Linked DNA regions of Homo sapiens: all the other regions are linked to region 4. Evidence: fine-mapped QTL for protein levels in blood plasma. Region 4 holds a variant in brackets. A gene starts in each other region. All regions are shown on their forward strands.

Region 1 (2,224 bases), not on the chromosome of region 4:
CGTTTTCTTCTCTGCACTTATAAGAAAGATCAAAGACTTTAAGACTTTCACTATTTCGGGCGGGCGCGGTGGCTCACGCCTGTAATCCCAGCACTTTGGGAGGCTGAGGCGGGCGGATCACAAGGTCAGGAGGTGGAGGCCATCCTGGCTAACACGGTGAAACCCTGTCTCTACTAAAAATACAAAAAATTATCCGGGCGCGTGGTGGAGGGCGCCTGTAGTCCTAGCTATTTGGGAGGGTGAGGCAGGAGAATGGTGTGAACCCAGGAGGCGGAGATTGCAGTGAGCCGAGATCACGCCACTGCACTCCAGCCTGGGGGACAGAGCGAGACTCCGCCTCAAAAAAAAAAAAAAAAAGGCTTTCACTATTTCTTCTACCGCTATCTACTACGAACTTCAAAGAGGAACCAGGAGTACGGGAGGAAAATGCAAGAGGACAAGGAGCGTGACCATTGAAGCACAGCACAGCAGGATGACTGCGGGCAGGCCTAGATAATACCCAGCCTCCCACAAGAAGCTGGTGGAGCAGAGTGTTCCCTGACTCCTCCAAGAAAAGGAGATTCCCTTTCGTGGTCTGCTGAGTAACGGGTGCCTTCCCAGACACTGGCGTTCCCGCTTGACCAAGGAGCCCTCAAGAGGCCCTTATGCCGGTGTGACAGAAGGCTCACCTCTTGCCTTCTAGGTCACTTCTCACAATGTCCCTTCAGTACCTGACCCTATACCCACCGGTTGTTTCCTGGTTATATTAGTTATACAACAAAGAATAAAAGTAATAGCTAATGATTAATAATGTTTACACTAATGATTGATACTGTCCATGATCATCTCTATATCTAATTTGTATGATAACTATTCTTATTCTAACTATTTTCTTTATTATACTGAAACAGTTTGTGCCTTCAGTCTCTTGCCTCGGCACCTGGGTAATCCTTCCCCACAGACTGACCCTCCCATTCAAGATACATCAATGTCAAAGACTCAGGAGTTTGACTTGATTCCCAGAAGTTTAACCATCATCTCCCCAGGCTCGGGACTCCCAGCACCCAGACCCTTCTGCTCACACCCAGCAGTCCAGGCCCCCAGACCCTCCTCCCTCAGACTTAGGAGTCCAGGCTCCCGGCCCCTCCTTCCTCAGACCCAGGAGTCCAAGCCCCCTGCCCCTCCTTCCTCAGACCCAGGAGTCCAGGACCCCAGCCCCTCCTTCCTCACACCCACGAGTCCAGATCCCTAGCCCCTACTCCCTCAGACCCAGGAGTCCAGACCAAAGCTCCCTCCTCCCTCAGACCCAGGAGCCCAAGTTCCCCAGCCCCTCCTCCCTCAGATCCAGGAGTACAGGCCCAGACCCTCCTCCCTCAGACCCAGGAGTCCAGGCCCCCCACCCCTCCTCCCTCAGACCCAGGAGTCCAGAGCCCCAGCCCTCCTCCCTCAGACACAGAAGGCCTACCCTTGCACCCTTAGGGGCTCCAGGAAATTAGCCAACCTGTCTTCCCTCTGGGTGCCCACTCCAGGGCCTGGCTTGGCTGCCAACTCCAGTCAGGGACTTTCAGCCACCCCTCCCCCCAGGTTATTTCAGGAGCACCTGCCTGGGCCTGGGATGGCTTCTCTGGTGAAAGAAACACCAGGATTGCATCAGGGAGGAGGAGGCTGGGATGTCCAGGGTCTGAGCATCTGAGCAGGGACAGATGAGGTTGAGGTTGGCCCACGGCCAGGTGAGAGGCTTCCAAGGCAGGATACTTGTGTCTCAGATGCGGTCGCTTCTTTCATACAGCAATTGCCGCCTTGCTGAGGATCAAGGAACCTCAGTGTCAGATCACGCCCTCCCCCCAAACTTAGAAATTCAGATGGGGCGCAGAAATTTCTCTTGTTCTGCGTGATCTGCATAGATGGTCCAAGAGGTGGTTTTTCCAGGAGCCCAGCACCCCTCCTCCCTCCGACTCAGGTGCTTGAGACCCCAGATCCTTCTCTCTGAGACTCAGGAATGTGGGCCCCCAGCCCCTTTCACCTGGGTCCCAGCTAACCCGATCCTCCCCTCCCTCATCCCCTAGACCCAGGAGTCTGGCCCTCCATTGAAAGGACCCCAGGTTACATCATCCATTCAGGCTGCCCTTGCCACGATGGAATTCTGTAGCTCCTGCCAAATGGGTCAAATATCATGGTTCAGGCGCAGGGAGGGTGATTGGGCGGGCCTGTCTGGGTATAAATTCTGGAGCTTCTGCATCTATCC
Region 2 (4,121 bases), not on the chromosome of region 4:
TCACTCTGTCGCCCAAGCTGGAGTGCAGTGATGCAATCTCAGCTCACTGCAACCTCCACCTCCCGGGTTCAAGCGATTCTCCTGCCTCAGTCTCCTAAGTAGCTGGGATTACAGGTGCCCACCATCATGCCCAGCTAATTTTTGTATTTTTAGTAGAGACGGTGTTTCACTATGTTGACTAGGCTGGTCTCGAACTCCTGACCTCAAGTGATCTGCCCGCCTCGGCCTCCCAAAGTGCTGGGATTACAGGCATGAGCCACCGCGCCCAGCCGAATGTTTTGTTTTTTAAGATGGAAGATATCCCAGCACTTTGGCAGGCTGAAGCAGGTGGATCATTCCAGCTTGGGCAACAAGAGCGAAACTCTGTCTCAAAAAAAAAAAAAAAGAAAAGAAAAAAAAAGAGAGAAAGAAACCCTAGGTAAAAGTCTGAGCCCCACCTCCCAATCACCTGATCACCTCAACCACTGTCACCAGGTGGATGACCTTGGAGAGGTCACACACTTCTAGTTCTGTAAAATGGGGAGTTATATTGCCTAAATCATATAATTTTTATGTTAAGTGACACATTCTCTAAGGCACTAAGTTTGAGGACATACTTTGTAAATGAAATGATATATGGAAATGTTTGTATATGTTAATGGTTTTGTTGTTGCTATTATTATTATGACTACTATACACATGGTCTGGAGAAAGCCAACCTCCCCAAAGCGGAGATTCTCCAGTAGAGAACAGGCCCTCTAGGTTGCATATCAATAGGGAGCATGTTTAAGGAATGTTAGCCGGTAGTCTTTGCTAGGTGTGAGGGGTGAAATTTTTCTTTATCAAGGCTCAACTGTTTTCGAAGTCTTCAGGCTTGAAGTTCTGGAGAAAACAACTAGGCTCTCCGGGCGAGATCCCGAATACCAGTTTAAGGGATTTGAAATGCAAGGCCGTCTGGGACTCCACTGCCACGGATGGGCACCAGGCGGCGCCGGTCGGATCCGTCCCGGGACTAGCAGGGCTTTGGGCAGCAACCCGCAGGGAGCCCGACCGCCTCTGGCCAGGTCCGGGCAGCTGGTGGGGGAGGTTCCAGAGGTCCACGCCATTCGTGGACGCAGTCTCTAGTGTCCTCTCCGCGTCCCACTTCACTGCCCCATCCCCTTTCCTGCGAGAGCCTGGACTTGGAAGGCACCTGGGAGGGTGTAAGCGCCTTGGTGTGTGCCCATCTGGGTCCCCAGAAGAGCGGCGGGAACTGCGGCCGCCCGGACGGTGCGGCCAGACTCCAGTGTGGAAGGGGAGGCAGCTGTTCTCCCAGGCGGCCGTGGGGGGCAGCAGAGGGGACGGCGACAGGTGCGGGAGCCCCTCCCGGGGTAGAAGTGGAAAGGCGGGCTCCGGGGTCTGTTCCCAGGCTGGAAACCACCCCCGCCCCCCATCCAAATCCCCGGGAGAGGCCCGGCCGGCGCCGGGTCTGGAGGAGGAAGCGGCCAGAGACAGTGCAATTTCACGCGGTCTCTGTGGCTCGGGTTCCTGGGCTGGGTGGATGAATTATGGGGTTTCGAGTCTGGGAGAAACTGAGGTGGCCTGGACGTGAGGCAAAAAACACCCTCCCCCTCAAAAACACACAGAGAGAAATATTCACATTCTGAGAGAAAATCCACCAAGTGAACCAACCGGCTAGGGGAGTTGAGTGATTTGGTTAATGGGCGAGGCCAACTTTCAGGGGGCAGGGCTTTGGAGAGCTTTCCACTCCCTCATTCATTACCCTTCCCTGGATCTGGGGGCTTTCGGAATCTCGACCTCCCCTTGGCCTATCTCCTGCAGAAAAATTAGGGTGAGCCCCATCCTCGATCTGCTCCGCCAAGTTGCGGGACCGCGGGGCGTGGCACGCTCGGGGCAGGCGGTCCGAGGCTCCGCAATCCCTACTCCAGCCTCGCGCGGGAGGGGGCGCGGCCGTGACTCACCCCCTTCCCTCTGCGTTCCTCCCTCCCTCTCTCTCTCTCTCTCACACACACACACCCCTCCCCTGCCATCCCTCCCCGGACTCCGGCTCCGGCTCCGATTGCAATTTGCAACCTCCGCTGCCGTCGCCGCAGCAGCCACCAATTCGCCAGCGGTTCAGGTGGCTCTTGCCTCGATGTCCTAGCCTAGGGGCCCCCGGGCCGGACTTGGCTGGGCTCCCTTCACCCTCTGCGGAGTCATGAGGGCGAACGACGCTCTGCAGGTGCTGGGCTTGCTTTTCAGCCTGGCCCGGGGCTCCGAGGTGGGCAACTCTCAGGCAGGTAAGTGGCGCGAGAGCACCGGCGGGCTCGGCACCTGGGAGCCGGAACCCAGTGCGCGCAGCCTCGGAGGGTATGGGCACGGTCTCAGGCGGCGCGGGGTTGTGGGTGCTGCCCCCGGTTTGCCAGGACCACCTGGGAGAGGGGCGGTCAGGCTCGGGTTATCGGCGTGGTCCGGCCGAGGGCGGCATTCCGGGACCCTCACGCCACCCTTCTCCAGAGCGTCGCCGACCCTCTAATTGGTCTCCCCAGAAGAGGCTGAGGCCGAAACAGTAGTTCACACTTCTGAGGGGCCCTGCAGGGAGGGGAGCAGGGAACTTCATTCTGTAAACAGGAGGTGCTTGGAGGTGGGGGCCTTGGCGGGAAGGGTCTCGGTTTGCTCGCCAACCCCCTGCCCCCCACCCGCGCCGATTTCAGCTACCCCTAGTTTCGTTGTTTTGCCGACAGGGCGGAGCTACAGAAGGTTGGAGGGGGTTGTTGTTCTCTGGTGTTGGAAAAACAGGAGCGGCACCTCCTCTTCCGTGAGTGAGCCTGCCCTGGGGAGGTCTGAGATTAACCAGAGGGCCAAGTTCAGGTGACATCAGGCAGGAGGCCCAACAGAGGCTGGCGCCCCCTTTCCTCAGTATAGCAGAGCTTAAGCAACATCTCTTTGTCAAGACCCAGGTCAACACAACTCATATTTATTGAGCATCTACTATACACAAGGCCCTGGGCCAGGAGCTGTAAGGGCAAGGATGTCCAGCCTCTGGTCTTTTCTCTCCCCAACCTGAGGATCAAGAGGGCACCTCTGCTACTTTCTAAGCCTCCTGCCTTGGGGAGTCCTTCCTGGGCTCAGCTTGTGCCTCCCGCCCCCATTTTGCTTATTGTCTGACACTGTCTCTAGGACCCTAGACAGAGCCCCGGATTGCTCTTCTCCAGTCCTCCCCCGACTCCCATGCTATCTGAGCCCACCCCTTTGGGGTGTCTCTGGGACCGTGGACACCTGAGGACTGAAGTTCTGTGGATCTCCTCCCCTCCCCTCAGATCTCAGCTTGGGGTTTGGCACAGCCAGGGCCCCTTCCCCAGTGTGGGAGTGGAAGAAACCACCTGTGCTTCCCTCACAGTTGCTGGGCCTAAATTTAGATCCTGGGATTTTTAGATGTGAACACTCCCAGCTGGTGGAGGGGGGTGGTCTGGGGACTGGCGTGGGAGGGAGCAGTGGAGTGACTGTATAACTGTCCCATCCAGACTCCTGCAATCTTCACCCAGAAACCCAGGAGTACCAGAGTCTGGCCACCCTCCCTGGGGAGGCAGGAGGCAGGCATGGTTGGGTCTCTTTACCCTTTATCTGGGTCCTGCAGCCTCTGGGCATCCGGCCCTGTCTCAGTCCTTCTATAGCCCCTTTGTCCTGGCTGTGATGGGGGTGGGGGATGTTGGAGGGGAGGCCTCTGGTTGAGGAGGGGCTGGAGATTCTGGCTCTATCCCACCCCTAGTGCTCTCTACCAAAGGAGGGCCTGTGACACTGCCCCTCCCTATGCTCCCGGTTCCTGGGTACAGCAGGGATTTTTATGATTCCCTTCCCCTGCCCTGCTCCCCAAGCTGCCTAGCTCCTCCCCAGAGGTGTTGTTTGTGCTCCCTTCCTGCCCAGGCCCTTTGCCCCCTGTTTGTGTAATATGGACTTTACCCTCAGGGTAGCAGGGAACTGGGCTACCTCTAACACTGTAGCCTTCCAAGCACAGACACAAAGTCTGCACAAACACTTATGGGCACGTGGGATAGATGGGGCCACCTGAAATACTTCCTGCAAGGAAACCCAACTATAGATTCCTGAGCCAGCAGGACCAATGTGTACGTGTTCGTGTGTACATTGTGTGTGTATGTGTGTGC
Region 3 (2,959 bases), not on the chromosome of region 4:
CCCAGGTGACACCTGCGGAGACAGCCCCCGTAAGGCTCCTGTTCCCGCCCCCTCCCGCCCCAGGGACCCAGACCCCAGGAGGCCTCACCCCACAGCAAGAGAAAGACCACGAGCATGGACATGATGGTCGCGCTCACTCCGGTGCAGTGAGTGTCTGGGGTGAGCGTCTGCAGCAATGAGGCCCCAAGGGAGGGCGGTGGGGTGGCTCGGGCACTGACCTCTTCCCGTGTTTGTCCTTCCCGGAAGGCGGGGGCAGGGCCCCCATGGGGTCAGGGCAAAGGGTGAACTTCTGAGGCCTCAGGATGCCCAGCAACAATTATAATCAATAATCATGTATGATTAATAAACTAAATCAAGAGTGATAAAATGATGTTAAAACCACCTCATCCTCATTTCAGTGATGGATCCTAGAACCTGTTCTAGAAGGAGACGCTGAGTTCTCCCCACTCTACCTGGAGCTGCTGAGGTCAAGTGGAGAGTGCCGGGGCTGAAGCCCAGCGAGCCCCTCCCTGTCACACCACACTGCACATGTGACACCAAAGGTGGGGTTCACCTCTTTTCAGACTTTCTGCGGTTGCCCTCACATGGGCTGTCTGGAGGTGCACCCTCACTCTTCCTGAGGACTGTGGTTCCTTCTCCATCACTGGTTCATTCTGCATGGTGTGACCCACCACGGCTCTGGAGTCGGATTTCCACCCAGGTCATTCAGCTGAGACCTGCGCTTCCCAGGCCTACCCGTGACATGTGCTCAGTTACCTGAGCTGCTGGTGGTCACTCATGTGGCTATAGCCTGCTGCCTGGAGGCCAGGCCTCCCGCTTCCCCTGCCTCCCCCTCTCCTCACCACAGCCTGTTGGGATGGAACAGGACAGGGGTGAGACCGTGGTGCTTTCACACTCAGCCTCCATGGACATCCTGTCATTCCCACCCGGGGAGGTCTGGTCCCCACCCTGGGTGTCCCAGCCTAGCTCCGCTACGAGTGTGAGGGCCCAGGGCAACCGCCTAGCCCTCATCTGCCCCCTGCACTGCATCCTCCCCACTCATTCATTCCACAGGCATTTATTGAGCATCTACTGTGTGCCAGATGCAAAGAAGACAGTGGGATAACTGGGCAAGGAGCATTCCAGGCAGAGGGAACAGCCAGTGCAAACATGGGAGATGCGGGTGCAGTGAGAAGGAGCAGAGGAGACCAGGAGTTGAGGCGACTGCAGAGCGATTGCAGAGCTCATAGACGTGATGAAGACCAGCTGGGCACTGCAGCGGCTCTGGCTTCTGCTGTGAGGGACGGGGAGCTGTGGAGACTCCCTCTGTTTGGTCCCATTTCCATATTGCTGAGCACCTGCTGCATGCTCTCTGTCCTGCTCAGAGCCAGTACCTGGATGGAGGCTGTGTGTTCTGGGTGGACTGGGGGAGAATGCATTCTTTGCAGAAGAGACAACCAGGTGCTGAGGCCTGAAGTCATAACCAGACCTGGGGCACTCAGACAAGGACTGGTGGCCAGGCCAGAGGAGCAGAGCTCAGGGTGTGCACAGAACTCAGAAGTCAGACCACTGAACAGTGACAGAACCTTTCAGCCCATTGGCAATGAGGCTGCCCAGGCAGCCAGAGGCCTGGTCAAATCTGAGGTCTGCAGAGATGGAGCTGTCATTCTGTGTTTCCTTTGGCAGTCCCAACACCAGCCTCGTTGCACCCTCCTCTTAGCTTCCCTGGGTTCTCCAGCCCTAAGGGTGGTAGCAGCTTCCTGCAAGTATCCAGCTCTGAGATTCTGCAACATCCACTTTTGCTCTCTGAGCCTTGCAAAACCTGCACAATCAGTCCCTAACTTATATCCCCTCTGTTTGAAATACCTAGTGTGGTTTCTATTTCCTGACTTGACTCTGACTGGTGTGGTACTTGGTATAAAGAAGGTTCCCTGGCCAGGTGCGGTGGCTCACGCCTATAATCCCAACGCTTTGGGAGGCTGAGGCAGGAGGATCACTTGAGCCCAGGAGTTTTGAGACCCGCCTAGGCAACATGGTGAGACACTGTCCTTACAAAAAATTTTAAAATTAGCCAGGTGTAGTGACGCAAGTCTGTCATCCCAGCTGCTTGGGAGGCTGAGGTGGGAGGATCACCTGAGCCTAAGAAGTCGCGGCTGCAATAAACAGTGATTGCACCACTGCACTCCAGCCTGGGTGACAGAGTGAAACCCTGCCCCCTCCCCCAAAAAAGAAAAGTCCCATGAAACAGACCTACACAGGTGAGATTCTGAGATTGATCTGGTTCTGACCTCGGTCAGGAATGCAGTGCTGAGCTTCTTGCCAACAGAATATGAGACACTAGAAAGCCATAGCATGCGGTTTCATCATGTTTAACTGTCACCTGTGGTTGCCTGAGATGAAGTGCTGACTGAAGCGAGCACCTTAGGAGACACAGTGGCCACTGCACTGAGCAGCTGGTAGCAGCAGTGGTGACCATGTGGACTGGGGGGTGGGTTGGCTGCTTTTGACAGTGCCAGAGAACTCAAAGAAATAGCCACACCTGTCGGAGACCCCAGTTCTTGCCCACCTCTGCATGGACGAACCTCTCGCCGAAGTGGAGCCTGCCGCCCTCCCTGGGGTAAGAGCCCATCCTACATGTCCCCAGACAGGCCTGGGTGGCCGGTGGACTATCGTCAAAGGGACTGTGCAGCCAGGGTTCTCCACACCCAAGGCCGCCCCTGCACTCCCAGCAGGAGGGCGCCCGCACCGGCGGCCCGAAAAAGTCTGGGCCAGCAGACAGCGCACTCACGCCCGAGACCCCGCAATGCCGTGTGTCCGCGACCTCCCGCTCAGGGCGTCCTCGGGTCAGGGCGCAGCGCGGCCCCCGTGCCGCTTCTGGTGCTCGTTGAGGTTGCAACGGTGGCTGAAAGGCTTCCCGCACTCGCCGCAAGCGTAGGGCCTCTCGCCCGTGTGCGTGCGCCGGTGGCTTAAGAGCTCCGAC
Region 4 (4,121 bases):
GCTTTCCTGCTGCACTCGTCCCTCTTTCTGCTCTTTTGTTTTCTGCCCATTGAAGAAGCCCTTGCTGCCCCTTCGGAACGCAGTCTGGGCCTACTCTCTGCACCTCTCCAGGGACCAGCAGAATTTAGTTCTAAGGGAGCTGTGCCTTCACCTCCCCGCTCAGGGAGGCACCTAAGCTTTCTGAGGGGGAATTGGGCCCTTCTTGAGAGCTGGTGGCTTTTCTCCCAGATGCCTCCTGGAAATCTTGCGGACATTTGAGCGAGCTCATCAGGTGACCTACAGCCAAAGCCCCAAGATTGCCACCCTGATGAAGAGTGTCAGCACCAGGTGTGTGGATATGTGTTTAGAGGTGAGGATGTGGCCCGGATGGAGAATACTGAGAGCAGGGAGACTCTGTGAGACATGTTAACACGGTATGGGCGATAGGATTGCATGTTGAAGGGTCATGGTTTGTTGACTCCTGTGTTCTTCTGTGGACATCTCTGGCCTCTTTGCACGGTGATCTCTCATGTCCTGACCTCTGACCCATTCTCAGTCTGGAGAAGAAAGGCCACGTGTACCTGGTTGGCTGGCAGACCCTGGGCATCATTGCCATCATGGATGGAGTAGAGTGCATCCACACCTTTGGTGCTGGTGGGACCCCAGTCCAGATGTTCTTCCTGCTTCCTCCTGATCCCAACCATTCGGGCTGCTCTCCAAACACTGTCCTACTCCCAACCCATGGGTGTTCCTCAGTGTCCCACCTTCCCTATCTAAATAGGCACTTCAGTCAAATTCTTCTTCCTTAGAACCCCAACTCAGTCCTTGATCCCTTCTCAGCTCCCACCCCTGTGCTTAACTATGGCCTCCCACAAGGGCTACTCCTCACTCTACGCCCCACTTGCCACTTTTCCTCCCAGTCCCATTTTCTCCCCCTGAAGCCTAGAACCTTCCTTTCCTATATAGCCAATCACTCCTCTCTCCTTGTTCTTAAACTTCCCAGATTTCCGAGATGTCCGTGGCTTTCTCATTGGTGATCACAGTGACATGTTTAACCAGAAGGCTGAGCTCACCAACCAGGTCGGAGAAGAACAGGACTTGGGGAAGCTGGGGAGACCACTAGTGTGCTGAGGGTGGAAGAAAAGGGGAAGGCGGAGCTAGGTGGGAAGTTCATTGGAATAGACGGTCCAGAGAAGAGAATATGGGTCAGAAGTCATGAGGCTTTGGCTTAGCATGGGCAGTGTGGAAAGCTCTAGATCCAGTCCCCAAACTTGGCCCTAGTCCACTGACTTGTTACATAATCTTGGGCAAAACACTGTACCTTTTGAACTTCAGCTCTTTCACCTGTGCACAAAAGTGTTAGATCTCCTCCACGGCCCCCTTTAGTCCTCAAGTCTGTGCTTTAGAGTGTTTTCATGGGAGGGACCCTCCCATCTTCTTCTGCCCCAGGGTCCCCAGTTCACCTTCTCCCAGGAGGACTTCCTGACTTCCATCCTTCCCTCTCTCACGGAAATCGATACTGTGGTCTTCATTTTCACCCTGGATGGTGAGAGGGAAGATGGGAGTGGTGAGGGGTGGGGAGGGGGAAATAGAATGGTTCAGAGGAGCTGTTGTTTTTCTGGGTCTTAGGGTACCTGCTCAGAGGGAGGGACGGGGTGAATATCCTGACTGGACCCCAGCCAGGGGAGCAGGAGGAACAGCTGCACAGCCAGCCTTTCGACTCTGATGCCCTCCCCTTCTCCTAGACAACCTCACGGAGGTGCAGACTATAGTGGAGCAGGTGAAAGAGAAGACCAACCACATCCAGGCCCTGGCACACAGCACCGTGGGTCAGACCTTGC[T/C]GGTGAGAGTCCAGCCGTGACAAAGGGACCCAGGTGGCAGTTGCAGCCAGGCCTTCCTGGAGATGCCTCTCCTGCTCCTCTTTCTCTCTCTCCAGATCCCTCTGAAGAAGCTCTTTCCCTCCATCATCAGCATCACATGGCCACTGCTTTTCTTTGAATATGAAGGGAACTTCATCCAGGTATGGGGAATGAGAAGGTCCTATCTGCAGTAAGGGGCTCAGAGGGTGAGGGATTCCAAGAATCAAAAAACCCAAGGCTGTAGGGCAGAAAGTTTGGAGACCTCTCTGACCCTCACAAAGCCAGCTGGGCAAGGTCATGGGTTACCAGGTTACTAGTCAGAATTCCCAAGGCAATGAACTACTGGGCTCAGCTGTCTCTAGGAATATGCAAAAAGTTGCGGGATAGGCCTCCAGTCACCTGACAGATGTTCATTTGTCCTTTGGGACAGGTTAATTATTTTTACTTTGAGACAGAGTCTCACTCTGTCGCCCAGGCTGGAGTGCAGTGGTGCAATCTTGGCTCACTGCAACCTCTGCCTCTTGGGTTCAAGTGATTCTCGTGCCTCAAGTAGCTGGGACTACAGGTGTGCACCACCATGCCCGGCTACTGTTTGTATTTTTAGTAGAGATAGGGTTTCCTCATGTTGGCCAGGCTGGTCTCGAACTCCTGACCTCAAGTGATCTGCCTGCCTCGACCTCCCAAAGTACTGGGATTACAGGTGTAAGCCGCTGCGCCTGGCTGGGACAGGTTAATTCTTGATACCAAAGTCATCATCATTATCCAAAAGCTTTTACCACACCTTTTTTTTTTTTGCAAGTTTACTATGCTGAATTCATTGCAGATAACTTTATGTGCATATAGTCCCTGCTTGCCAATGAATTATAATCCAGCACAAATACTGATAATAATTACAGAAATAATAATCAGTGTGTGTGCTCTTTGCAATTTAGAGCTTTGTGTGGGCATTGGGAGCTCTGGATGCCGGTCTAGCTCTACAGTGTGGCCCAAGAAAGCAAGCAATTTTACATCTCTGGTTCTCAGTTTTCTCATACACCACCTGCCCACCCTCCATGGGCAGAATCAGGGCCCTGAAGGGTTGCTCTGGAGAGATGTGGTCTCTTATTCGTTATTCAAACCATGTCTGTCAGAAGTTTCCTGGCTTGACCAGACACAGCTGAAACACTGACTTACCTGGACTCAGAACTCGTATAGAAGCGGAAGTTTCTCTGCCCCTGAACAGGGAATCCACTCTCCTTCCAATGTCTTTCATTCTTTTTATTTTTTAAAGACAAAGTCTCACTCTGTGGCCCAGACTAAAGTGCAGTGGTGCCATCTCAGCTCACTGCAACCTCCGCCTCCCCTGCTCAACTGATCCTCCCACCTCAGCTTCTCAAGTAGGTAGGACCACAGGCACTCACCACCATGACTGGCTAATTTTTGTATTTTTTTTGTAGAGATCGGGTTTCTCCACATTGCCCAGGCTGTTTGCCAACTCCTAGACTCAAGTGATCCACCCGCCTTAGCCTCCCAAAGTGCTGAGATTGCAGGCGTGAGCCACTACGCCTAGCCAAAACACTGTATTTTTAAAGAAAAATGTTCATTTTAACAGCCATACATTTTTTATAGATACATTTTTTATAGTAAAGACGTTACAAATTACAGAAATGCAAAAAAGAAAAAATCACTCCAAATCTACCATCTTCAAAAAAAAAAAAAAAACACTCTAACAAATTTTGGAGAATGTCCTTTTAAATTTCTATTATATGCATATATAAATATATTTGTACAAAAGTAAGACCATACTTGATATGCTGTTTTAAAGTTGCTTTATGAACATCTTTCTGTACTAATAGATCACCATCATTTTCAAAAATTATTATTATTATTATTTATTTTTATCATGCCGGGACATGTTCTCATCTGATAGATCACTACTATCATTTTTTTTTTTTTTAAGATGGAGTCTCGCTCTGTCACCCAGACTGGAGTGCAGTGGCGCGATCTCCGCTCACTGCAAGCTCTGTCTCCCAGGTTCACGCCATTCTCCTGCCTCAGCCTCCTGAGCAGCTGGGACTACAGGTGCCCGCCACCACGCCTGGCTAATTTTTTGTATTTTTTAGTAGAGACGGGGTTTCACCGTGTTAGCCAGGATGGTCTCGATCTTCTGAACTTGTGATCCACCCGCCTCAGCCTCCCAAAGTGCTGCGATTACAGGCGTGAGCCACCACGCCCGGCCACTACTATCATTTTTAGTGTCAATGTAATATTCCACTGTATAGATGTACCATAAATTGTTTAACT
Region 5 (4,121 bases), not on the chromosome of region 4:
CCCAGCTGGCCTGCTCACCCAGCCCCTCCTATCCACAGGAGCCCAGATGGAGGGGCCAAGGGATGTCCTTCTGATCAGCTCAGGGAACAGGTTTCAGCTCTCACTCTTCTGTACAGTGAGGGCTTGGCTCATGTAACACCCGAGGAAGCTGCTCTCCGGAGAACCACCAGATCTAAATGAAAAGTACAAGGCAACATGCAGAGTTGGCCAATACTGGAGCCCAGAAGAAACCCCACCATTAGAGAAAGGCACTGGGAAGAGAAAGGAGGGAGGAGTGTAGTTAAGTGAGGGGTAGGGGGAAGGGGGGGATCTTGAAGCCCTGGGGAGTAAGAGCAGGGGTAGGAGTACTGGGAGAATGGTGAGTGCTGAATGCAGATACTAGAAAGGTGAGGAAATGGGGGAGGCTGGGAGAGTTGGGAAGGTCTTAGGAAATGTGGAAGGATTCTGGGGATGCCTGCATTCTGAGGGTCTTGAAAAACTAAGCCAGAAGAGAACTGGGGTTCCTCATATGCTTGGAAAAATATTTTTGAAGGAAGTATGGTAGATCAAGACTCTCATGGCCTAGGCTGCTCTCGCTTCTTTCCTTACTCTTGATGCTCACAAGGTATAGCAGCAAGATGGAACCAGTGCTGTCGCCTTCACCCCTCTGTGACAAATAAGGGCCCTGAGGATATCTGCTCAGGGGCAGAGAGCCAGTCAAGGGCAAATCCAGGGCGCTTAAGCCTCAGAAAGTGGTCCCCAGGACACCCCGATACAATCCCTTGTCCCATTTCCCCAGCCTCTATGAAAAACTCTGGAAGCTGAGGACCCGAGGCCTTTCTCCATTCAGTCTCCCTACACTGCTTTGGCAGTGAGTGAGTCAGGCACTTGGGAGAGGAGGAGCTGCCTCCCCCACCTGCCAGTATGGGGGATCCAGGCAGCATCCTCCAGGTCTGGACAGGTCCCGGGGCTGGCAGCTGGCGCCACTTCCTCACGATACTGCCAAGCAGCCCTCCCCCTGCCAGGCACCACCACCCAAGGACCTCACCCAAATCCCTCCCACTCACTCCCCTCCAATATCTTCGGGGTGCCAGGGTTTGTCAAGCTCTTTCTTCCCCAACCCCAGAGGCATGGTCCAAAAAAAAGCCTGTGAGTCCCTGAAGTGTACAAAATTAACCCTGGGGCATGGAGGGTAGGAGCTTCTGACAGCCCCACAGATCCTAGGGCAGTCTCAGAGAGCCAGAGGGTCCATGCCAGGGCCTGGCACTGCCAAGTGGACTCTGCTCTGAGTCCTCCAACCCACTCTTGGCCGCAAAGTTCAGGACAGACTATAAAACATCCTCCACAGAGTCTGATCCTTGCCTCTACTTAATGATCCTGTATGTCTAACTTCTGGCAATTCACTAGCAACCAAGCCCCCTGTTTCCCACTGCCTCCAGGCAGCTCTCCCACACTTCCCTGAAAAACCTTTTTCCAAGTATATAGGAACCCCCTAGTTCTCTCCTGGTTGTTTTCCGAGACTCTGAGTAACTAGGCATCCCTAGAATTCCTCCCAGTCTCTTAATATCTTTCCAACTCCCCCGGCCTCCACTATTTCCTCACCCTTCTAGTCTCCCCACACACCACTCCCTCGTCCTCCCATTACTCCCTTCCCAGTTATCGCTACTACGCACAATCCCCCCACAATTCCAGCTTCTCGCACCTGATCTCCAATTGCAGCAGGTCTCCTGCACTATAAAGAACTCCCTTCTGGTCTCCCCACCCCCCAGCCACTTCTCCCCATCCTCTCCTCCCGATAATTCCCCTCCCTGGGATTCTCCTGCATCAGCCCACAATACAATTCTGATACCCCACCCCCAACAATTCCTTTCTCCCTCGCATTCTCTGGTCCCCTGGAACTCCTCCTTTCTCTTAGAACCCACCAAGAACTCCCCCACATTGCCTCCAGAACTCCTGCAGTTCTCCGGGAACTCCCACCCACCCGCCAAGAATTCCACTTCACTCCCCAGAACTCCCCTAGTTCTACTCCTGCAACGAATTCCACTTCTCTCTAGAACTCCCCGCTTTCTCCTGTCCCCCATAACTCCGCACTACCAGCACCACCACTTCTATACCTCCAGTACGCCCCCTCCCTCACCTGCTCCGCACCGCTCGGCTCCACTCTCGCCGCTACACAATAGGGGGCGGACCCGCCTCCCCGCCTCGGATGCCCCGAGCGCCTCCCGTCGCCCTGGAGACCGCCAATCCCCCTCCCGCGGCGGCCAATTGGAGCCGCCAGAGGCACGGCGAGGCGGGCGGGACCCCTGAGCGGCCTGGGAGTTGTAGTTTCAGGAGGGAAGAGCTCGGCTGCACGTGGGCTCAGGTCGCCCCCTCGTGGACCTCTGCACAGCCAAGCGTGGAAAGGCCGGTGGGCCGCTTCCCGCCGCCAGCAAGAGGGGCAGCAGGGTCCGGCTCGCGCTCCAGGGCTGCGGGAGCTGGCCCCTTGCCAGGCTACTGGTACGCCGTCCTTCTTTCGGAACCTACGGGCGACCCTCTCCGCTCCCCGAACGGGCGCGCCACAGAGGCGGCAGCGAGGGTTGAAATCTGAGCCTGGGGGTAGGAGAACCAGGCGGGGAGCATGACTCCCCGCCCTCCTCCCAGGGGATCCACCCAGGTCCCGGGCTCATCCGATCTCCTCCCCCATCCCCATTTCTACCTCCACCCATTGCTTCTCTAGCAGGACTGGAAATACCTGTCTGCATTGGCGAGCTCCCAAATCTTGCCCAGGCGCCTCCCACCGTGTGCAGCTGAGGAAGGCTGTGCTCTGAGCGTGGGGTTGCCAAGTCAGCTCCCAAGGCAGCTCTGGCACCAACGACCCAGAGAAACAGGCCCAGAGGGGAGAAACGACAGATATCCTGACACGGGAGATTGAAAGGGAGGAATGAAATACAAGATCACTTACTGGACCCATGCAGGGTGCCAGACCCTGGACTAGATGCTTTATAACTCTTGTGTAACCTTCACAGAAACCCTGCGAAGTAAGTAGAGCTCCCTTTGACTAATGAGAAAACTGAGGCTCAGGGAGATGAAGTAACTTGGCCCAAGCTTTCCCAACTAGGTTATGGCAGAGCTGGATTGAGACCCAACCCAAACTTCATCAAACCTACTCCCTTGGAGGCTTCGCCCTCAGACACAAAGATATCTTGCATATCTTGCCCCTCAGAGATTCCACCTCCTCAGCCTGGTGATGCTGTAGGGATGCTGGGTCGGCTTAAGCAACATTGCCTGTCCAGGTCCTTCCCATTCAGTTGGCTCCCTTGGAAGCCTTCCATGAAAGCAACGTGCTGATCTCATCCCAATCCGAAGTACTAAGACTCAAACTGAGTGCACCAGGCATCAGACTCACAGAATCACTGCTGCAGCATCATGAGAGAACCTCCAGGATGGGCCTAAGCACTACTTGGCCCCAGAATCCCTGGCACATCATTTCTCCATGTAGTCATCCAAGCCCCTATCTCATTACATCCTGGGCCAGGAAGCTCAGCACTACTGTTGTACCCATTCCATCCTTAGTAAGCTCTGCCTGCTGGACAGTTCTTCCAGGTGTAAAGGTTTTAGTGCTTTTGGGTGACTGAGATGGAAGGGAAGAGGCAGGAGCAGTGGGCCAGTCTCTCCCACCATCCCTCCTGCAAATAGTCCCAAAGTAGCAGCTTTTCAACAATGCATTTCAACATAATACCCTGATCTATTGATAAGACTATAATGGAAACATGTTAATGAATGCAGCATGGAAGCAAGGCTAGAAGAAATGGTAAAAGAGTGAAGCGGGTTTTTTGTTTGTTTGTTTTTTTGTTTTGACAGAGTCTCACTCTATCGCCCAGGCTGGAGTGCAGTGGTGCAATCTCGGCTCACTGCAACCTCCACCTCCCGGGTTCAAGCGATTCTCCTGCTTCAGCCTCCCAAGCAGCTGTGATTACAGGCGGCCACCACCATGCCTGGCTAATTTTTGTATTTTTAGTAGAGATGGGGTTTCACCATCTTGACCAGGCTGGTCTTGAACTCCTGACCTCATGATCCACCCACCTCGGCCTCCCAAAATGCTGGGATTACAGGTGTGAGCCACTGCCCCCGGCCGAGCCAAGTGTTTTTTAGTCTTTGGATCT
Region 6 (4,121 bases), not on the chromosome of region 4:
TGTAGCAGGTGCTGTAGCTCTGTGCCCCGGAGCACTTGGAAGTCATTCAATGGCGAGCGCTGCCCTGCAGAGTAGGCATGAGTGGGTGCAGGTCAGGTGGGCATACATGTCAGTAATGTGTATTGGCATGTCCACACTTTGTTCATTCAGGGGATCAAAGCTACAAGGCTTCTGGGATGGACCCTGTATGCACTTTCAAGGGCCAGTCTAGCCCCCTGCACAGATACTTGTGAAAAAAATTTCCCCTGGGAAGCAGGCCCAGACTTGGTAGTTATCACCGGTGCCTCTGTTTAGTGGCCCAGGCACCGGGCTCAGATCTAACACATACGCTCTGTGAGAGCAGTGGGTGATGAAGCTTGCCCCACCTCATCTCTCAAATGAGAATGCTAAGGCTCAGAGCCATCACATTACCCAGCCAGGGGCCCTGGCTAGGCATTCAGACTCCAAATCTGGGCTCTCACCTGCACAAAGGCATATGCTAGGTTAGAGGGGTAGATCAGGCTCAGGAGGGGTCACTGCCTGCTGTGTGCGTGCATCTGTGTGGTCCTGACACTGCTTCAGTGCTAGAGCAGACGTGCTAATAGAGGCCTAAGTGGGCAATGTCTATGTGTTCCTAGGGCTTCCCAGCTGTGCTCAAGAGGGCAAGGTCACTGCCCCATGCCCACTGAGCCTCTGGCTCCCCGACTTTTTTCTCATCCTAGAATAGGAGAATGGGGCCAACCCCCTCCTGAAGGCAGATGGGGATCAGGGTTGGGGGCACTTACCAGGGACCCCTAAGCATTGAGTCAGAAGCAGCAGGAGTGGGAGCCACCCCATCCTTCTGGCTGGAGGCTGCACTGTGACCCACCACAGCCCCATCCGGGAAGTTGTGAAACCTGTCCCTACGGGATTGGGTGGCTCTGGCTCCACACGTCAGCTCAGGGCCTGCTGGACCCTGACCTGAGACCTGGTGACAGGAGCCATGAGGGGCCAGGCCTCAGGTCCCATAGGTCAGTTGCAAGGGCCTAGTACAGCTTAGTGGACAGGTGTTAGGAAGGTTTGGTGGGGACACTTGAGGTGCCCTGGGGTTGGGGTGAAACCCCTCTGCAGCCTAGTCAGCCCAAGGGCATTGTGAAAGTGAGAGCTGCCAGAGGTCTGGGCTCCAGCCCCTGGGTGACATTAAACTTTTCTGAATTTCGGTTTTTCCCTGTAAATTGGGGAAAATTACTTGCCCCAGCTTCAACACTGCCTCCCCTCCACCCTTTTGCTGCTGCCTTATCAGGCCCCAGCTGTAGGCAGGTCAGCCCACACCCGGCGGCAGAGCCCAGAGAGGCTCGCTCATCTCAGCCGCCAGAAGTGTCATCCCAGGGAAGGTGAGCGAGGCTGTCCACTAGGACTAAATAGGGGTGGAGGTAACAGGTAGCAGGGACTCTGGCAGGAACGGCCTTTCAGACGTTTTAAGGACCGTCTGAGCGGGGCCTCTAAGTATGGGTAGGAGACAGGCGGCCTAGGGATTCCGGTTAGCATGTCGCGTTCTGCCGCAGCAGGGCTGGGAGCATCCCCAGAGCAGGCGGAGGTCGGAGGTGGTGAGGCCTTTCGGCGAAGCTGAGGCCTGGAACAACCCGGTGGGAAGCCATGGAGGGGGTCCCCTAGCGGAGGCTGGGCGCGGGCCAGTGCGCGTGCGCGGCTGGAGGCTCAGCGCGCAAGCGTGCGCGTGATTTGGCCCTGAACGGACGCCGTAGCCAAGAGGTTGGGCGGATGTTGTGAGCCGGGTCGCTGCGGCCGAGGCTCCGGGTGAGTGAGGGGCGGCAGGGCTCTGAGCCTGGCGGGTTCCGGCTATTCCCTTCGCGGTCCGGGCTAGTCCAGTGCGAGGGCACCTGCAGCGCAGGGATCTGGGTGCGAAACTCCGAGCGGAAGCTGGTCTGGCAGGTCCTGTGGAGCTTGGGGCCAGGCGGGGGCGACTTGGGGGAGCCATGCGCCGCCCTCGCCGTCCTTGGGCTCCCAGACGGAGTAGGTTCAGTTCTGAGTCCGGATACCCCGGCGGGGTTGGACGGGATAGCCGTGACAGGGAGTCCCCGGGCGGGGACAAGGTCCGCCTCTCACCTGGGTCCTCAGCAACTGACTCCCGGAGCCCACTCCGGGTGTCTGGAAGGTCTGCTCATCAAATGAATGACTGAGTTTAATCAGATCTTCAACTACTCTGGTAGTGAAGGGGCACCGATCATGGACGCCCACCGAGGGCCCGAGGTCGGGAAAATCACCTTCCCGAGGAGCAGGCGTGGTGCAGACCCACAAGGGTTTGTGGCGGGAGTAGAGGGTCTGTTTGGGGTGAGATAAGAGACTGAACTGCAGAGTAGGGAGTGCTGGCTAAGGCAGTGCTGCAGAGCGAAACTCTAGACCTGCGCTGTCTAATAGAACTTTATATGATGGTGGGAACGTTCTACCTTTGTGCTGTCCAACAGAGTAACCATTAGCCACATGTGGTCATTGAACTCTTGAAATGTGGCTAAGGCAACTGAGAAATCGAATTGTTAATTTTTAAAACTTTAAATTTAAGTAACCTCATGTGGATGACGGCTGCTGTGTTGGACAGCACCGCTACACATCAGTGAGGCCAGCACCAGGGACTCAGTGCAGGTTCTGGAGCAGCTGCAGCAGCAACATGATGTGAGGGATAGATGCACTAGGAGGACCAATGGAGTTTGCCATGAGGGCTGGGCAAGGGTGGTGCTTGGATGAGGTGGGAGGCCACATGTGTGAGTGGGAATGGTGAAACTATCAGGACCATGGATAAAAGAAGGGAGGAACCCAGGGCTGAGGAAAGAGGCTCCAGCCTTGTGGGGAGTAAGTGGGACTTATGGCTAGAGATGACCAGACCAGTGGTGGTCTGCACTTGGGGGAATGTGTAGGATTGTCGCTTCTGGTTGTGAGCTGGACTCAGTATGGCTTACAACTGAGATGGATACAGGGGCTCTGCCCCTAGGACACCTCACTTTGGACATTTTGGTCTGATTTCCACAGAGCTGAGACATTTTGTTATGGTTCGGCAAAAATATATCTAGTACCTGCTCTCTGCCCAGCCCTGTGCTGGGCACAGGGACACTGGAGAACAAGAAGTGGTCCCTGTTACATGGGCCTAGACCCTGGCTACCCTCCCTGTGTAGGAAGCTGGGAGCCCCTGCATTCCCCTGCCCTATGTGTTAGTGTGCATGCCCCTGGCCTCACCTGCTCCCAAGCCTTCCTGCCATGGCAGGACTGAGGTCAGGTGTGGGGGCCCCTGGCTGGCCCTGAGTAGACAGGCTCTGTGTCTGGCTCAGCCCCCAGGACCACTGGCTGCCCATGAGAGATGAAGGATGGCATCCAAGGGGGCCGGCATGTCTTTCTCCCGCAAGAGCTATAGGCTGACCTCAGATGCTGAGAAATCCAGGGTCACAGGTAAGAGCTGGCAGGGAAGGAAGGAGGCTCCTCTTGTTGGGAGGAGAAGGAAGGGACAAAGGCCTCAGGCCTTGCTGCACCTGTGGCTGGCCTAGGACCAGAAGTCTCTGGGGCCAGCAGGGGCCAGGAGCTGCACTGATCATGTGGCCCTTTTCTCCCTTCTGACTTGTGGCTCAGGCATTGTGCAGGAGAAGCTGCTGAATGACTACCTGAACCGCATCTTTTCCTCTTCTGAACATGCACCCCCAGCAGCCACCAGCAGGTATGGCTGGGTGGGTGGCCCCTCCTCACTCTGCTGGGCCAGACCAGAATAAGGAGGCTGCAGTTGTAGGGAAAGGGAGCCTGGGCTCTGGACAGATAGGCTTAGGCTCTGTTCTCACTGTGCTCCTGGCTGCGAGATCTCTGGCCAGAGAGTCTGCCTTCCGTACTCTGCTTCTTCCTGTCTCCAGGCAGTGCTAGTTCCTTCTGAGAGTCAGGGAGCAGAGGTCAGGGAGCGGGTGCACATTCATGCCCAGCTAGCACCTGGCACCTACTCCATACCCAGCATCTGCCCCTGCATGTACCTGCCCTCACCTTGGCCCCAGCCTGGCCCCTTGTAGCTTCTGACTGACCTTGTAAAGAACAAACTCCTCCAGGGCCTTTTCTTTACAAGTTTAATACTTTTAAGTGTAGTCAGTATAAAAGTTACAAGTACATTTTAGCAGAAA
Region 7 (3,335 bases), not on the chromosome of region 4:
TGCTAGGTTTGACCCAGGCTGAGGTCCTGGGCGGGAAGGGCGTGACACGGCCTGACACCCTCCCCAGCAGTCTCCCAGTTCCCGCGCCCTCCCCGGTTCCACCCTCCTTCGCTCATTCATCCCTGTCCCAGCCTCAAGGGGCTTCGTCTCTCCTGGGGAAGGGGCTGTTCAGAGCTGGGATTTCAGACCCCTTCGGCTGGGAGTTCCTCCCGCGGCCTCCAAGGGCGGCCAGGGCACGTCCTGAGGCCGCCCTCCCATCCCAGCGGACATCTACGACAAAGTGTCGGGCGACATGCAGAAGCAAGGCTGCGACTGTGAGTGTCTGGGCGGCGGGCGCATCTCCCACCAGAGTCAGGACAAGAAGATTCACGTGTACGGCTATTCCATGGTGAGCCGCAGCCCCGTCCCGCCCTGCCGGAGGCCCCAGTACCAGCTTCGAGGCCCACCTGAGCCTGCTGCCCTGACCCGTGGCCCCAGCTGAGCACGCAGGCTTCCTGGGGTTCTCCCAGGGTCGGCGGCAGAGCCCTCCCTCCAGGGCCCATTGTGTTCCTGCATTCCCCCATGGAGCACACGCCAGACCTGAGGGGTGGGACGGACACCCCCAGACATGGCCGGCTGTCTCCTCTCCCTGCCTTGGGAGGCCTTGCTGGGCTCTAGCTGTCCTCCAGCACTTTGGGCCCTGGGCCCCCAGAGGCAGTCAGTACCTGGGTGGAGCTCAGAGTCCCCACCTGTGCTCTTCACAAAAACCACCAGCAGATGAGACCCACGTGCGTCCCTCTGGGCGCCTCAGGCCCCAGGATCCACCATCAAGGTTTGCTTGCCTGTGGAGGTCGCCTCTCCCCAGGGGAGCCCCCAAGGGCGGTCGGGATGGTGGGTTTGGCATCCCCAGGCACTGCCTATCCCTTTCCCACACTCGCTTCTGGTGTGGCTGGTGGCTGGATGCCCAGAGCCGGGTATCGGGTTGAAGGGTCCAGGTAGTGCCAGCAGGCGTCTTCTCTTCTCCAGGCCTATGGTCCTGCCCAGCACGCCATTTCAACTGAGAAAATCAAAGCCAAGTACCCCGACTACGAGGTCACCTGGGCTAACGACGGCTACTGAGCACTCCCAGCCCGGGGCCTGCTGCCTCCAGCAGCCACTTCAGAGCCCCCGCCTTTGCCTGCACTCCTCTTGCAGGGCTGGCCCTGCCTGCTCCTGCGGCAGCCTCTGGTGACGTGCTGTCCACCAGGCCTTGGAGACAGGCTAGCCTGGCCACAGAATTAAACGTGTTGCCACACCTGCCGGCTTCTGAACTCTGTCCTTGGCTTCCTGCACCCTGCGTCACCACCTCCGGGGGCCCCCAGACCCTAACTAAAGCAGGTGGGTGGGGGAACACAGGAGTGGCCCCAGGGAGTGGCGGTGCACACTCAGCCCTTTGGGGTCTGATAAAGGGGCCCGCTGATGGCCTGACTGCTCTTCCCACGGCCATCGTCCTCCAGGGCATCTTGGAGGAGGTCTGGCAAGCCCTTGCGAGAGGAGTCAGGGCCTGGTCCCTCGGGCTGGCCAAGACCTGGGGCGCCCACCAGTGCTCCCTCCTATGAGCCCATCCCAGGGCTCCCCAGTGTCCTGTCTGCCCTGAGGCTCCTTCCGTGACCTGCAGGCTCCTTCCATGACCAGCCCCATGGGGCCTACCAGTATCCAGGGTCAGGTCGCACAGCTGCATCTACCCCACAGGCTCACGTTGACTCTGGAGGCCCCTCCCAGGTCCCTCTTGCACCCGGCAGGGCTGTGGGCAGGACACGGGTTCAGGCCTTGCCCTGGGAAGCCCCATACACAGTGGGACTCCATGGGGTGGTGCAGGGGCACCCTGGGGGCCAGGGCTGGTTGTACACAGGGCACCCCCACCTTTGTCAGCTCACTGGTCCTCCGGCCAGCCTCTCCAGACGGGCACTGTCATAACCACATTTTACAGACCGGGACACTGAGGCTCAGTGACACAAGCTCCGAGGTCACACCATGGGAAATCACAAACAGGGCCTGGCCCCAAATGCCACACTCCTTCCCCAGCCCCAAAGACCCTGCCCCAAGCATGAGTCTGCTCCATGAGAAACCGAAGTTTCTGGGCTCCTAGGGACCCTGTATCTGGCACCGGACAGCACCTGGCTGCTCAGGACGAATGAATGACGGCGTGATCCTCCACAGCCTGACTTAAAGGCAGGTTCCCCACGGCTGAGAACGCAGGGACCAGCTCTGGTGCACGTGCTGGACTCCTGCAGCTGCTGGACTGGTTGAGTCCTGACCTTGGCCAGCACCACGCTATTGCCAGAGGCACAGTGAGAGGCCACGGCGGCCTCTGCCCGCCCCACACTGCCGAGCAGAGTCCTGGTGGGGTGCCTGGGTCCCTCCCCATTCCAGTGGGAGCCTCCCCTTCACCAGGCAGGGCAGGGCAGGGTGGAAGAGCCTGACCTTGTGTCTGAGGGAGCCGGGCAGGTGGGAGCTGACCCTGGGTCAGAGGCCCCCTCCTGGGGCCACTTTCACGGCCCATGCTTGGCACCGTCAGCACTGGGTGGGGCCGGGCCGAGGGGCCCTCCACTTAACAGCAGAGTCAGCGTGCGGGGCCAGCGCAGGCTGATAACCGCACGGAACTTCCCAGGCACCCTGTGTGGCCGCACTGCTCCCTCTGGCCCAACCATGCCTCTGTCCAGCCACCTGCTGCCCGCCTTGGTCCTGTTCCTGGGTAAGTAGTCTGGTCCCACTCCTGAGGCAGGACCAGGGGCCCTGGCTTCTGAGCCTACCATCTGTGTGGCAGTGACGGACACCAGGGCTGATGCCTGAGCCCCAAAGGGAAGGAGGGTTGCAAGGTACTACCTTGGCCGGCCTGCAAGGGGGGTGACCTGGAATCAGCCCATGGGGTCCTCGGGCCTGCCAAGCAAAGGAAGAGGCACGACTCCCCTCCCAGTCTGGGACAAGAGGGCTCAGGAGGTGCCCCCAGCTCTGCCAGCCTTCATCTGCCACCCTTGGACTGGGTGGAGCTTGTGGAGGCCCTGGGCCGCCCGTCGATGCCTCCCATTGGGGGTCGCCCTCCCAGTGCCCAGTTCCCTGCTGGGCACTCTGGGTTCCTGCTACCTTTCTTGGGGTGCCCCATGGCCGGGTCCCCCTCCCCAGCCTCTTCAGGGCTGGAAACAGGAACGTGCTGTGCTTGGTCCTGAGCCGGGTGGGAGTTCTCTGTGGGTCCCAGCCCCTCCCTGCTCCATCTCCTGGTCTGAGGGGCATCCCCGGACAAAAGATGTCCAGTGCTAAAACTGAATAGTCCTAGGCAGGCTGGGATGGCTGGTCACCCTGCCCCCAGGCCACCTGGC

Alleles and levels. Alleles are on the strand shown, and positions count from the first base shown. The strength of an association depends on the size of the effect and on how common the allele is.
For the plasma level of the protein whose gene starts at base 1,679 in region 1, C is the low allele of the variant in region 4 and T is the other (moderate association).
With allele C in place of T in region 4, the plasma level of the protein whose gene starts at base 2,041 in region 2 is lower (moderate association).
For the plasma level of the protein whose gene starts at base 177 in region 3, allele T in region 4 goes with a higher level than allele C (moderate association).
With allele T in place of C in region 4, the plasma level of the protein whose gene starts at base 2,157 in region 5 is higher (moderate association).
With allele T in place of C in region 4, the plasma level of the protein whose gene starts at base 1,641 in region 6 is higher (moderate association).
In carriers of allele C in region 4, the plasma level of the protein whose gene starts at base 2,597 in region 7 tends to be lower than with T alone (moderate association).

What was found. PIP is the chance, under the fine-mapping model, that this variant and not a neighbour inherited with it causes the effect. Protein levels are from antibody-based Olink assays in UK Biobank. Linkage for the fine-mapping came from a reference panel and not from the study's own genotypes, which makes the PIPs less certain.
Region 1: it holds the start of FGF21, and the variant in region 4 is fine-mapped to the plasma level of the FGF21 protein (UK Biobank, PIP above 0.99).
Region 2: ERBB3 starts here. The variant in region 4 is fine-mapped to the plasma level of the ERBB3 protein (UK Biobank, PIP above 0.99).
Region 3: A1BG starts here. The variant in region 4 is fine-mapped to the plasma level of the A1BG protein (UK Biobank, PIP above 0.99).
Region 5: it holds the start of IGSF9, and the variant in region 4 is fine-mapped to the plasma level of the IGSF9 protein (UK Biobank, PIP above 0.99).
Region 6: MST1 starts here. The variant in region 4 is fine-mapped to the plasma level of the MST1 protein (UK Biobank, PIP above 0.99).
Region 7: MAMDC4 starts here. The variant in region 4 is fine-mapped to the plasma level of the MAMDC4 protein (UK Biobank, PIP above 0.99).

The regions. Positions count from the first base shown.
Region 1 is chr19:48,753,846-48,756,069 of GRCh38, forward strand. FGF21 (fibroblast growth factor 21) reads left to right here and starts at 1,679. Exons shown (of 4, transcript NM_019113.4): 1 at 1,679-1,939; 2 at 2,046-2,224. It also overlaps a transcript of FUT1 not described here. RefSeq lists enhancers at 901-1,766, 1,767-2,224, promoters at 1,282-2,224, 1,391-2,224, 1,517-2,123, 1,555-1,646, 1,592-2,224 and cis regulatory regions at 1,403-1,963, 1,598-1,610, 1,638-1,646.
Region 2 is chr12:56,078,125-56,082,245 of GRCh38, forward strand. ERBB3 (erb-b2 receptor tyrosine kinase 3) reads left to right here and starts at 2,041. Exons shown (of 28, transcript NM_001982.4): 1 at 2,041-2,258. The coding sequence starts at 2,177. RefSeq lists an enhancer at 1,698-2,688.
Region 3 is chr19:58,353,316-58,356,274 of GRCh38, forward strand. It overlaps A1BG (alpha-1-B glycoprotein), which reads right to left and starts at 177. Exons shown (of 8, transcript NM_130786.4): 1 at 89-177; 2 at 1-12. The coding sequence starts at 122. ZNF497 (zinc finger protein 497) reads right to left here. Exons shown (of 3, transcript NM_198458.3): 3 at 1,042-2,959. The coding sequence ends at 2,824. It overlaps A1BG-AS1 (A1BG antisense RNA 1), which reads left to right. Exons shown (of 4, transcript NR_015380.2): 2 at 64-159; 3 at 399-542; 4 at 1,054-1,868.
Region 4 is chr2:27,506,253-27,510,373 of GRCh38, forward strand. It overlaps GCKR (glucokinase regulator), which reads left to right. Exons shown (of 19, transcript NM_001486.4): 11 at 229-327; 12 at 536-633; 13 at 983-1,059; 14 at 1,429-1,525; 15 at 1,725-1,822; 16 at 1,916-1,999. Among named protein-coding and RNA genes, the nearest start is that of GCKR, 11 kb to the left of the region's middle. The variant T/C (reference allele first, on the strand shown) is at 1,821.
Region 5 is chr1:159,943,457-159,947,577 of GRCh38, forward strand. IGSF9 (immunoglobulin superfamily member 9) reads right to left here and starts at 2,157. Exons shown (of 21, transcript NM_001135050.2): 1 at 2,117-2,157; 2 at 1-172. It overlaps LOC124904438 (a long non-coding RNA gene), which reads left to right. Exons shown (of 3, transcript XR_007066684.1): 2 at 2,696-2,996. RefSeq lists a silencer at 2,143-2,437 and an enhancer at 2,280-2,780.
Region 6 is chr3:49,687,834-49,691,954 of GRCh38, forward strand. MST1 (macrophage stimulating 1) reads right to left here and starts at 1,641. Exons shown (of 18, transcript NM_020998.4): 1 at 765-1,641; 2 at 1-64. The coding sequence starts at 858. It overlaps RNF123 (ring finger protein 123), which reads left to right and starts at 1,724. Exons shown (of 39, transcript NM_022064.5): 1 at 1,724-1,773; 2 at 3,297-3,414; 3 at 3,592-3,676. The coding sequence starts at 3,333. RefSeq lists an enhancer at 995-1,554.
Region 7 is chr9:136,849,750-136,853,084 of GRCh38, forward strand. It overlaps MAMDC4 (MAM domain containing 4), which reads left to right and starts at 2,597. Exons shown (of 27, transcript NM_206920.3): 1 at 2,597-2,713. The coding sequence starts at 2,668. PHPT1 (phosphohistidine phosphatase 1) reads left to right here. Exons shown (of 3, transcript NM_014172.6): 2 at 264-388; 3 at 1,006-1,275. The coding sequence ends at 1,098.